Regions from separate parts of the Homo sapiens genome. Here region 1 is linked to region 2. Evidence: fine-mapped expression QTL. A gene starts in region 2. The other region holds a variant in brackets. All regions are shown on one strand. Distances are from middle to middle. Region 1 holds the start of LOC124902885 (a long non-coding RNA gene). Region 2 holds the start of ERP27 (endoplasmic reticulum protein 27).

What was found. PIP is the estimated chance that this variant, and not a neighbour inherited with it, causes the effect.
Region 1: its variant is the best candidate, but not a certain one, in a credible set for the expression of ERP27 in regulatory T cells (Bossini-Castillo 2019, PIP 0.63).

The regions. Positions count from the first base shown.
Region 1 is chr12:14,909,395-14,914,775 of GRCh38, forward strand. It overlaps ERP27 (endoplasmic reticulum protein 27), which reads right to left. Exons shown (of 7, transcript NM_152321.4): 7 at 4,645-5,381. The coding sequence ends at 5,341. It overlaps LOC124902885 (a long non-coding RNA gene), which reads left to right and starts at 713. Exons shown (of 2, transcript XR_007063221.1): 1 at 713-999; 2 at 1,110-1,271. The variant G/GT (reference allele first, on the strand shown) is at 3,081.
Region 2 is chr12:14,936,136-14,941,516 of GRCh38, forward strand. ERP27 (endoplasmic reticulum protein 27) reads right to left here and starts at 2,402. Exons shown (of 7, transcript NM_152321.4): 1 at 2,280-2,402; 2 at 1,817-1,917. The coding sequence starts at 2,373. RefSeq lists an enhancer at 1,858-1,917.

The sequences.
Region 1 (5,381 bases), 27 kb before region 2:
GTGAAGACAACATAGACGTGTTCTCCCCCAGCACAAACTTAATGAGGGTGCTACATCTTTTATTTGATAAAATGAATCCATCCTTTCCTTATTCTTTTGCATAGCATTGGTGCAATAACTATGATGGTATAAAAGGAGATACAGTTCTAGACATGTGTAGTGGATGCTGTGGTGAGCCGCACAGATCACCCCAAAGTCATTAGCTTCTCCCAGCTCTGAGTATGTTGACAGCTAAGAGCTCTTAGATGAATCCCACCCACCAACCAGCCCAGAAATCTCCCTCTGCTCAAATGAGCCATCTTGCCCACGAGCATGCACCTTTCCTATGTGCAGCTTGCAACATCAGATGTTCAATGTTGGGGTATAGAGGCCTGGGTCTCATTCTCCAATTTGGGGTACTCTACAAGGAAACCTCAGCACCAAATATCCACATGGGATAATCTAAGCCTTTGTTGTGACTGCATCGCAGCCTAACTTATATTTCTGTGGAACCCTACTTTCTTTATTTCTTCACAGATCCCCAGACGCTCCCCAATAAACTCCTTGCAATGGAATTTAGTTGCAGAGTCTTCTTGGAAAACATGACCCGTAATACAATGTTAATTTTAAAATTAACAATTTTAAAATTGTTACTTCACCACAGCTTGAATTATGTCAAACGTGCTCTATTTTTTCTTCCTTAAGTGTATGCTAACACCATATTACCATTTTAAGACCAGTGGGCTAATGTAGAAATTAAATCCTGCTATTAAGATTTAGTGAAATTGTTTGGATAATTAAACATTAAAGCCTGGATTCCACACAACTTTTCATAAACTATAGAAGTGGCTTAACACCCTCATCCTTTACTCACACATATCCTTCCACCCCTAGTATGACTCAGATATTTCATTGTCAAGGCCACAAAAACAATGACTTCTTGTTCCAGAACAGAAAGAAAAGAGAGACCTATCTTAGAAGTGATTCGAAGGAGGGTGAATCACCTTCAAATTTACAGAGGTATGATTTTAAAATTCACTTGCTTCTTTGATTTCCAGAGTACCTTTTTTCCAAAAGTTCAACACTCAAAAGGTGTTCGTGTTTAACTTTCTCCTTTTCCAATTCTCTAGGTCTCGCCATGTAAGGTTTCTGCAATTAGGAGCCATGAGTCAGATCCATCCCACTTCCAGTCTTACTTTTCTCTGTTTAGAAAACCAGATATTTTCAGAAAGGTGAAATAAATAGGACTGGTTCCAAATTCAATTGTGAAATAAAGTTAGCTTATGATGGTTGTGGACTGTTTCCTTTGTGGCTCCTCCTCCCCCAGCTCTGGGGCCCCCTCAGCCCACGGCCAGCCTCCTGCCCAGTCCCCTCCACAACATACCTCTTTCTTTGTGTATTGCTTTCCCTGTTTGGCTGCTTTCTGTCCGTGACTCAGAACCATTCTGGTGGCTTCCATGTTGCCTGTTGTCACTACAACTGAAAAGTCTCTGTTCTATAGCTCATCATCCAATCATCACCAATTGCTCTCTCTCTCTCAGAGGGCAGCTTTGCCTGCCACACTCATAGTTGTTTAATGAATATTTAAATGAGTGAATGAGTATATAAATAAACTACTCTCTCTCAATACGCTACATAGCCCTCATCCTACCCCTGACTGCTCAAGGTATATGTGTATTAAGATGGGCCTGATGAATGCAGCCTTCCCTTCTGGCATGACCCAATAGGCGAGGAAGGACAGGAATCCCCTGACAAGTGGACGTTGGGGCTGTTTTACTATGTATTTCTAATGCTTTGACATCTGGGACTTTGCTTACCTTGGAGAGATTGCCCCTCCCTCCTAGAGATAGCCAATTCCTGGAGATAGTAATAAACTCACCTGCTAGTATAGCTTTTATATGCAAACCAACCAGTCCAGAGTCCATACCCCAACTATCTCCTTACTGGACTCTCATGGGGCTCTCACATGCTGGGCTACCACCCAGCCACTCCACCCAGGGCCAGGTTCCAGGCAACAAGGGAAAGCTCCTATGCCCCAGAGCCTGCTGAAATTATCGAAACCAGCCAATCCTAAGCCTCCTTACCCTCCTAACCCTTTCCCATTTCTTCCCATGGAGACCATAATAAAGGCCCTTGTCATTTCACCTTTACTCCTTCTGCCTTCTGACTGACCCTGATACTTCCCTATGTGGCCCTGCACAGCATGGCATGCTGCCTCCTCTTGGGAACTGTGAGTAATAAACTATCTTTCAAATGGCTATCTTTTTTGATCTGTTGGCCACCCCATACCTAGAAAACAATAAAAGCTACATTTAAAATCTGTTATCTCAAATACTTTTTCAGCCTCAAAGAAACAGCCTGAATGAAGTCTCTGCCTTCCCGTAAGTTCTAACAATTAGAGAAATGATTATTTCCCAGAGAAGGCAATGTAGTATTAACTTAAGAGAAAAGTAATAGCCAAACTTTACTTAATAGGGATTATCACCCTGGGATCTCAAGCAATCCTAATAATTATTACATTAACCTTAATAAACTAAAGTTCAAAGATAAAAGTAATTTTTCCAGTGTCATAGAGGCACATACATAGAATAGGTGAGACTCAAACCCAAACTTTCCAGTCATTCCTTTGAATCCTGCTTCAGTCCCGCTCCTTCCATCATAGTCTTCCAAATATGTTAACATCTTTTTCAAATTTATATTGTATAATATTATCACTTCCTTCGTACTCTAAAGAAAAAGTATGGCAGTCTTGTCAGTGAGGGCCATTGAATGATTCCACAATGAAAAATAGCTGAGATGTATCCAGACATCTCAACAATAACATAGCCCTGGGGAAATGGATGTAGACCTGGCAAAAGATTCTCAAGACAGAGAAAAAATTGCAGATGTTTATAAGATCTGATTTTTTTTTTTTTTTTTGAGACAGAGTCTCTCTCTGTTGCCCAGGCTGGAGTGCAATGGCAGGATCCAGGATCTCGGCTCACTGCAACCTCCACCTCCCAGGTTTAATCGATTCTCCTGCCTCAGCCTGCTGAGTAGCTGGGATTACAAGCCTGCACCACCATGCCCGGCCAATTTTTTTTTTTTTTTTTGTATTTCTT[G/GT]TTTTTTTTTTTTAAGGAGAGACAGGGTTTCGCCATGTGGGTCAGGCTGGTCTTGAACTCCTGACCTTGTGATCTGCCCGCCTTGGCCTCCCAAAGTGCTGGGATTATAGGCATGAGTCACTGTGCCCTTCTAAAGATCTGATCTTTAATAAATGGGTGAATCTTTACAAATTTCTTCTTTCTGAAGTCCCATTCTTTGGTTATGAGACCCCCGGAGCTACAAAGAACAGGACTGCCTATGAAGAAGACCGGCAAAAGTAACTGGCAGTTATGAAGAACTACAAGATGAGAAGGAAGGATTCACTTCAATATTATACACATACAAATAAGTATATAAAATAATATAATAAAATTGTTATTGAATGTCAGCAAGTAGAAAAATGCATTGTAAAGATGTTAAGACCCATGTGGTCCATTTTGATTATTGTTTTTGAGGGGAACACTTCAAGAAAAATAATTGAAAAATTAGCACAATATCAAACAAAATGTAGCTCATGGGTCCTACTATAGTTTGGGTTCCAACTATTTTAAGCAAGAAAGAGGAAAAGTTGGGAAAGAATGAGGCGAGAAAAACAATGAAGTAAATCAAATGATAAAAACCAAATGATGAGAGTTAGATTGTGAGTATGGGGGAAAGATGGCTAGATAAAGGGGCTTCAGTGCAGCCAGCAAGTGGTTAAAGGCATGGTTTGAGGAGGGCATCTGGAAGCTGTTAAGAATTTCCACAAAGGGTGGGCAAGAAGAAATAGCTTCCATGGCCAGAGGACCTCAGCTGGATATCAGGAAGAATTTCCTGACCGTAAATGTCAAGAGCTCTCGTTTACAGGATCCAAAGGAGCCTTCTGGGATGTGCCTATCTTAGGAATATTTTTCAGCCTCAAGCGAGAAGCTGTTTGGGTGGTTTTCTGCAGCCCTGGGTTGGACTGTGTGACCTCCACAGAATACCTTGGTCTCGTTGCTGAAGGGCACGCCTTACACTGGGGCTTTCACAGTGTGGTTGCCAGCAGCTGACTCCCGCCCAGGGGCTGTGGAGTTTTCCCCACAGAAAGAACAACTGAGCCTTTCACTCCCTGTTCCTCACTTGGACCAGTCCTTAGGTACATCTGTGGTTTTTCAGCTCTTCAGCACTTAGGCACTTTCCTCCTGAGCCAAGGGCCTCCTGGGAACAATGCAGCATCTGTGTGTTGATAGTAACAGCCTATGGGCCAGAGTCACTCAGCCAAGCTCTCCTTTCACCACACAGGAGCTGGATCACACACCTTACCTGCAATAATCCAAGGCTTAGTCAGCCTCAGCCCGTCCCACTGCCAGTGCCCTGCTTCTCCTATCTGCTCCCCAACCTTTCACCTAATTTGCTTCCTAGCTCAGTTGCCACATTTGTTCCAATCCTCATGCAGGATGGTCTCTATTTTCCACCCATCCCACCCACAGAGTGAACAATAACATGTTAGTGGCTTATGGTCTGACACTAAACAGTGGGCACTGCAGAGGGAGGAACATGCTGCTTAGTTGGGCAGCTGGGTATTTACAAAAGGTTTGGCCTGCAAAGAGATGCCAGCCTTTCTCCTATAACATGATTGCCTTTTATTTATTATGCAGGTTGTTGATTTACATAGGGAGTTGGAGATGCTAACCAAGCATGGAGTTTTCACATGGTCTATTTCTGCTGAGTTCAGGGACTTGGAGACAGCCTTTAACTTCTGGCAAAAAGACAATTTCACAAAGGTGTTTAAAACCATCCTTTGGTTTTTGATCCTGAGTCAGAGACGGACATGTGCTTATGAAAGAAGGTAGAGTTTCAACCCTTAGGTAACCTTAAAAGAGCAGGAACTATGTTGTGTGTAAGTCATGTGCAGTATACAAACTTGATATTAAATGACAAATTGGAACAATCTTTCTCTAGGAATGCCTCTCTTTCATAGAGGCATCACAGTGAGTCTCTTAAAGCCTTGATCTAGGTGTGTTACAGATGGGCTTACAGAGTATGAATGCACGATAAGAAGGAAATTGGATAGGGAGTGAGGATATGAAATTTAAAAGAAGGAAGAAGAGAAAACGAGATTTTAAGACAGGAAATGAAGCTCTGTGTGTGTGTGTGTGTGTGCGTGTGTGTGTGCACGCGTGCGTGCGTGTGTGCACGTGCGTGTGTGTGTGGTTGGCAGGCCTAGTGATCCTGTTGTTTAGTGTCTCTGAGATTTGAGTTGTGCCTTTTTACTTTGCATAAAGTAGATACTTGGCCATATGTAGTTCCAAGGAGAAGTCAGAGTTCCACCTTTGGAGTCTTTCCTTCTGATTCACGAT
Region 2 (5,381 bases):
TGGATGAAAGGAAAAAATGCAAAAATATGAAATAGACGCCATCAAAAGGGCCAAAAAAGAAAAAAAGAAGAAAAATAAAACAATTAAAATGAAAGCTTAGAAGTTTTAACAAAAGTTTATGCAGGTTATGGAAGGACAGTCCCTCTCTTGCCACTGTAGATAAACCTGAGCTTTGCACATGAAGATGCTGTTCACGCATTCAACTCTGCAGCCCAGGCCTGCAGGAGGCAGCAGAGAAGCCACTTGCGAACAGTGATTCCAGGCCTTCCATAGACGCTGGCATCATTTTCCCTGCTCTCACGGGACCTTTATCCATAGCAGCTCCAGGAAATTAACAGGAACAAACATGTTCTACCCTGCAAGTCCCCAGGCTGAAGGAGGAGATGTGCAAGGAGAAAAGAAGATGGCCAGTTGATATGGTTTGGCTGTGTCCTTACCTAAAATCTCATCTTTAAATGTAATCCCCATAATCCCCACATGTCAAGGGTGGGACCAGGTGGCAGTAATGGGATCATGGGGGCAGTTTCCCCCATGCTGTTCTCGTGATAGTGCATGAGTCACAAGATCTGATGGTTTTTTAAGCGTCTGGCATTCCCCTGCTTGTGCTCATTCTCTCTCCTGCCATCCTGTGAAGAGGTTCCTTCTGCCATGATTGTAAATTTCCTCAGGCCTTCCAAGCTATGCTGAACTGTGATTCAATTAAAACTCTTTCCTTTATAAATTATCCAGTTTTGGGTATGTCTTTATTGGCAGCATGAGAAGAAACTAACATACCCGTCTTGCATCTGGGGTCAAGCAGAGGGAGCTGGTATCTACTCTTCTAGAGGCCATGAACAATAATTAATTGAGGCCTCCTCTCTTATTCTGCTCCTTCAGATGGAATTGCTGGAGGATAAAATGATGGCATCTGGCGGCTGTTTAAGTTATTGCACACTCCTCCAATTCCATGCTCTTGCCCCTTCCCCATCTTTCTGACGGTGTTTTTGTCTACAGCTCAGATTTCTCATTCCTGAAAAATGTTGTCCCTGTCTTTCTCCCTGACTTGCATCTCATTGCAGTGATTTCCAACTGTGTACGCAGAACTGACAGGGTAATCAGGAGTTGTAACTGAGAAATGGAAACAGACAAGAAGGTCTGCTATGAGAGAGTAGGGGCTTGATCAGCTGTGAGGATTTCCAGATGCTACCACCAGAGAAAGATGAAAATGCTGGAATGAGGCAGTCTCATTTATGGCTGCCTTTCTTAGTCAAGAAGCTAATCTGGAAGATGGAGGTTAACACCTTGAATATACAAAATGCCATCATTTTCCAACATTTCAGACAAGGCAAAGAGAAAGAAGGAGAGTCTACCATATTTGGGGGAAAGGCTTTAAAAGGCTGTGCACTGACTAATGTCCAGGATGTTTGGCATCCTGTAAACAGTGTTGCTGGATGATATAAATTGGGTTCACTCTGGCCCCTGCCTATTCATAGGGTGCTATGAGAGTATAGACCAAATGTGTTTAGGACAATGGTGGGGTTCCATGAAGGCATTCTTTCTGCAGATACTGACTTGAGCTTCAAAGCATCCATAGATGAGGAGATGCAGCCCACAGGCTCAGAACTCTTGAAGTAAGTATGAGAAAGATATAATTTAGAGACTGGGAATGTCTTGAAAATAAGAGGTCCCAATGGACAAGATGAAATCAAACTGGGTGGCTGTCTCCCTTTACCCCCACTTCTAATGCAGTGCCATCTGCCAGCAGCAGGTGGCTGCTGTGGTTCCCTTAAGGTAGAACATTTCTGGCTCTTGGGGGAATTGCAAGTAGGGAACTAACCTGGAAGAAGCCTATGACAGCCACCTCAGTGGCAGCAATGAATTCCATGGCAGCTGGGACATCTGTGAGCCACGTGGGTTCCTGGGCAGCACCAGGACCATCTAGAGAGAGAAGCAGAAGATGTCAGGGTACTGAGGCAAGAAGAAGCAGCTCTAAATAATGAGGGCATCTATACCTTTTATCTCTATACTAAGGGCAAGAAGAGCACAATTTATAGGAGTACTGTTGGCATTCCAAGGCATAATATTTTTACTAACATATGGAAGGTGACCCTACTGATGGTCTGTCTCTGAAGGATACTGCCAGACTTCCCTACTCTCTACCAGGCAAAATGCACTTATCCAGGATTTCCTGGAAAGCTTTCTAGGTGTGGAGGAAAAGTACCCAGAGAACCACCATGCTCCCTTTCCTTCTCCTAATAACACTTTCACACTATAGCCACCCAACTACATTTTTCTTTTACCTGAGGATTTCTCAACTTCTGCAGCAACTTCTGCAGCCAGCTCACACGTGAGGAGAAATAAGAGGAACATGAACCTGGACGGGGCAGCTTCCATTGTCCCTCTCCTGCTCCTGCTCCAACCCTGGACTTTGTGTTGGGGAGGCCGACTCAGGGCAGCCTACTCTGTAGCTGATTGGCTGTGGGGTTGTTAGGGCTTTGGGAACTTTGCAGCTGGCTCCAGGGGAGCCTTCAACTTCTGAGATAAAAGACCAAGGTTAGTAATAGGGACTCAGAACATATCCAACCAGAAGAAAGTCAGGTCAGTTTATTTAAATAAAAAATGTAAATATGCTATGCCAGGCATTGATCCTAGCGCTAAGAATAGAAAGATAATTATGATCTGATCCAGCCTCTGCCAGCTTAGATTATCAGTGGGAGAGATGGGCAAGTAAAAAGATTATTTAAATATAAGATGGAAAGTGATATAGAAAAATTCATAGGGTGCTATGACAATACATATTAAGGGTATTAGGGACAATGCTAGGGTTCAATGAAAGTGTTCTTCCTGCGGAGGATGCCGGAGCAGAGTTCTGGGTAAGTAAGATTTTGCCAGGCAACACAAGGTAGAAAGGGAGTTTCATGTAAAGAACTAAAGCACAGGCCGGGCGTGGTGGCTCATACCTGTAATCCCAGAACTTTGGGAGGCTGAGGCAGGTGGATCACGAGGTCAGGAGATTGAGACCATCCTGGCTAACATGGTGAAACCCCATCTCTACTAAAAATACAAAAAATTAGCCAGGTGTGGTGGCGGGCGCCTGTAGTCCCAGCTACTCGGGAGGCTGAGGCAGGAGGATGGCCTGAACCCGGGAGGCAGAGCTTGCAGTGAGCCGAAATAGCACCACTGCACTCCAGCCTGGGCGACAGAGCGAGACTCCGTCTCAAAAAAAAAAAAAAAAAAAAAAAAGAACCAAAGCACAGATATGCAAATATAATGTGTGACAGAATTACTAGTAATTGAGAATGATGAAAAGGAAGGAAGTGATACATGTGGACAGAAAGGCATGTTGGGACCAGCTCACAGCAGGCTTTATATGATACACTAAGCGCGGGAGCATCAATTTTATTCTGTAGGTGATGGGAACCACTGAAAAGTCTTAAGCAGAAGAATGAGATGAAGTTTGATTTTGCTCACAAGTGTCTGAGGAAGTCCAAGATGAGATTTCCACAGGCATTGGGATATGTAGTTTTAAGCTTAGGAGAATTTTCATGTGAAAATATTACAAAAGAAATTAGGAAGCCCTAGCCAGGGCAATTAGGCAAGAGGAAGACATAAAAGGCATCTAAACAGGAAAAGAAAAAGTCAAACTATTTCTCCTTGTTGACAATATGATTGTATGCCTAGAAAGCTCTGAAGACTCTGCCAAAAGGCTACTGGAACTGATGAATGATTTCAGTAAGGTATCAGGAAAAAAATAAGTGTACAAAAATTAGTGGCATTTCTATACAGCAATAATGTCCAGGCTGAGAGTAAAATCAAGAACACAATTTCATTTACAATAGCTACAAATAAAATGAAATGCCTAGGAATACAGATAACCAAGGAGGTAAAATATCTCTACAAGGAGAAATACAAAACACTTTTGAAAGAAATCAGAGGTGACACAAATGAAAAAACACTCCATGCTCATGGGTAGGAAGAATCAGTATCTTCAAAATGGCCATACTGCCCAAAGAAATTAACAGATTCAGTGCTATTCCTATCTAACTACCAACGTCATTCTTCACAGAATTAGAAAAGAAACTATTCTAAAATTTATATGGAACCAAAAAAGAGTCTGACTAGCTAAAGCAATCCTAATCAAAAAGAACAAAAACAGAGGCGTCACATTACCCAACTTCAAACTATACTACAAGGCTACAGTAACCAAAATAGCATGGTACTGGTACAAAAGCAAACACATAGACCAATGGAACAGAATAGAGAACCCAGAAATAAAGTCATATACCTACAACCATCTGATCTTCGACAAAGTTAACAAAACCAATCAATGGGGAAAGGATTCCCTACTCAATAAATGGTGCTGTGATAGCTGGCTAGCCATATGCAGAAGAATGAAACTGCACCCTCATCTTTCACCATATAAAAAGTTAACTCAAGATGAATTAAAGATTTAAGACCTCAAACCATAAAAGTCCTAGAAGAAAACCTAGGAAATACTCTTTTTGACATTAATCTTGACAAGTAATTTTTGGCTAAGTCCTCAAAAGCAATTGCAACAAAAACAAAAATTGACAAGTGGGACCTAATTAAAGAGGTTCTTCAGAGCAAAAGGAACTATTGATAGACAATCTACAAAATGGGAGAAAGCATATGCAAACTATGCATCCAACAAAGGTCTAATATTCAGAATCCATAAGAAACTTAAACAAATCAAGAAGCAAAAAACAAATAACCCCAATAGAAAATGGGCAAAGAGCATAAACAGATACTTCTGAAAAGAAGACACACAAGAGGCCAATAAGCCTACAAAAAATGCTCAACGTTACTAATTATCAGAGAAATGCAAATCAAAGCCAAAATGAGATACAATCTCACACTAGTCAGAATGGCCATTATTAAAAAATCAAAAAACAACAGACACTGTGAGACTGCAGAGAAAAGGGAATGCTTATACATTATTCATGGGGATGTAGCTTAAGCAGTTACGTAGTTCAGCCACTGTGGAAAGCAACTCTAAGTAATGAGGACATCTATACCTTTTATCTCTACAGTAAGGCCAAGGAGAGTACTCCAATTTTTAGGAGTAACGTTAGCATTCCAAGGCATAATATTTTTACGAACGTATGGAGAGTGACCAGTTTGAAGATTTCTCAAAAAACTTGAAACAGAGCTACCATTTGATTCAGCAACCCCATTACTATGTATATATCCAAAGGAAAGTAGATTGTTGTACCAAACAGACATGCACATGTATGTTCATTGTTGTGCCATTCACAATAGCAAAGACACGGAATTAATGTAGTTGCCCATTAATGGTGGATTGGATAAAATATGTGGTGCATATATACCATGATATACTATATGGTCATAATAAAAAAGTAAAATCATGTCCTTTGCAGCAA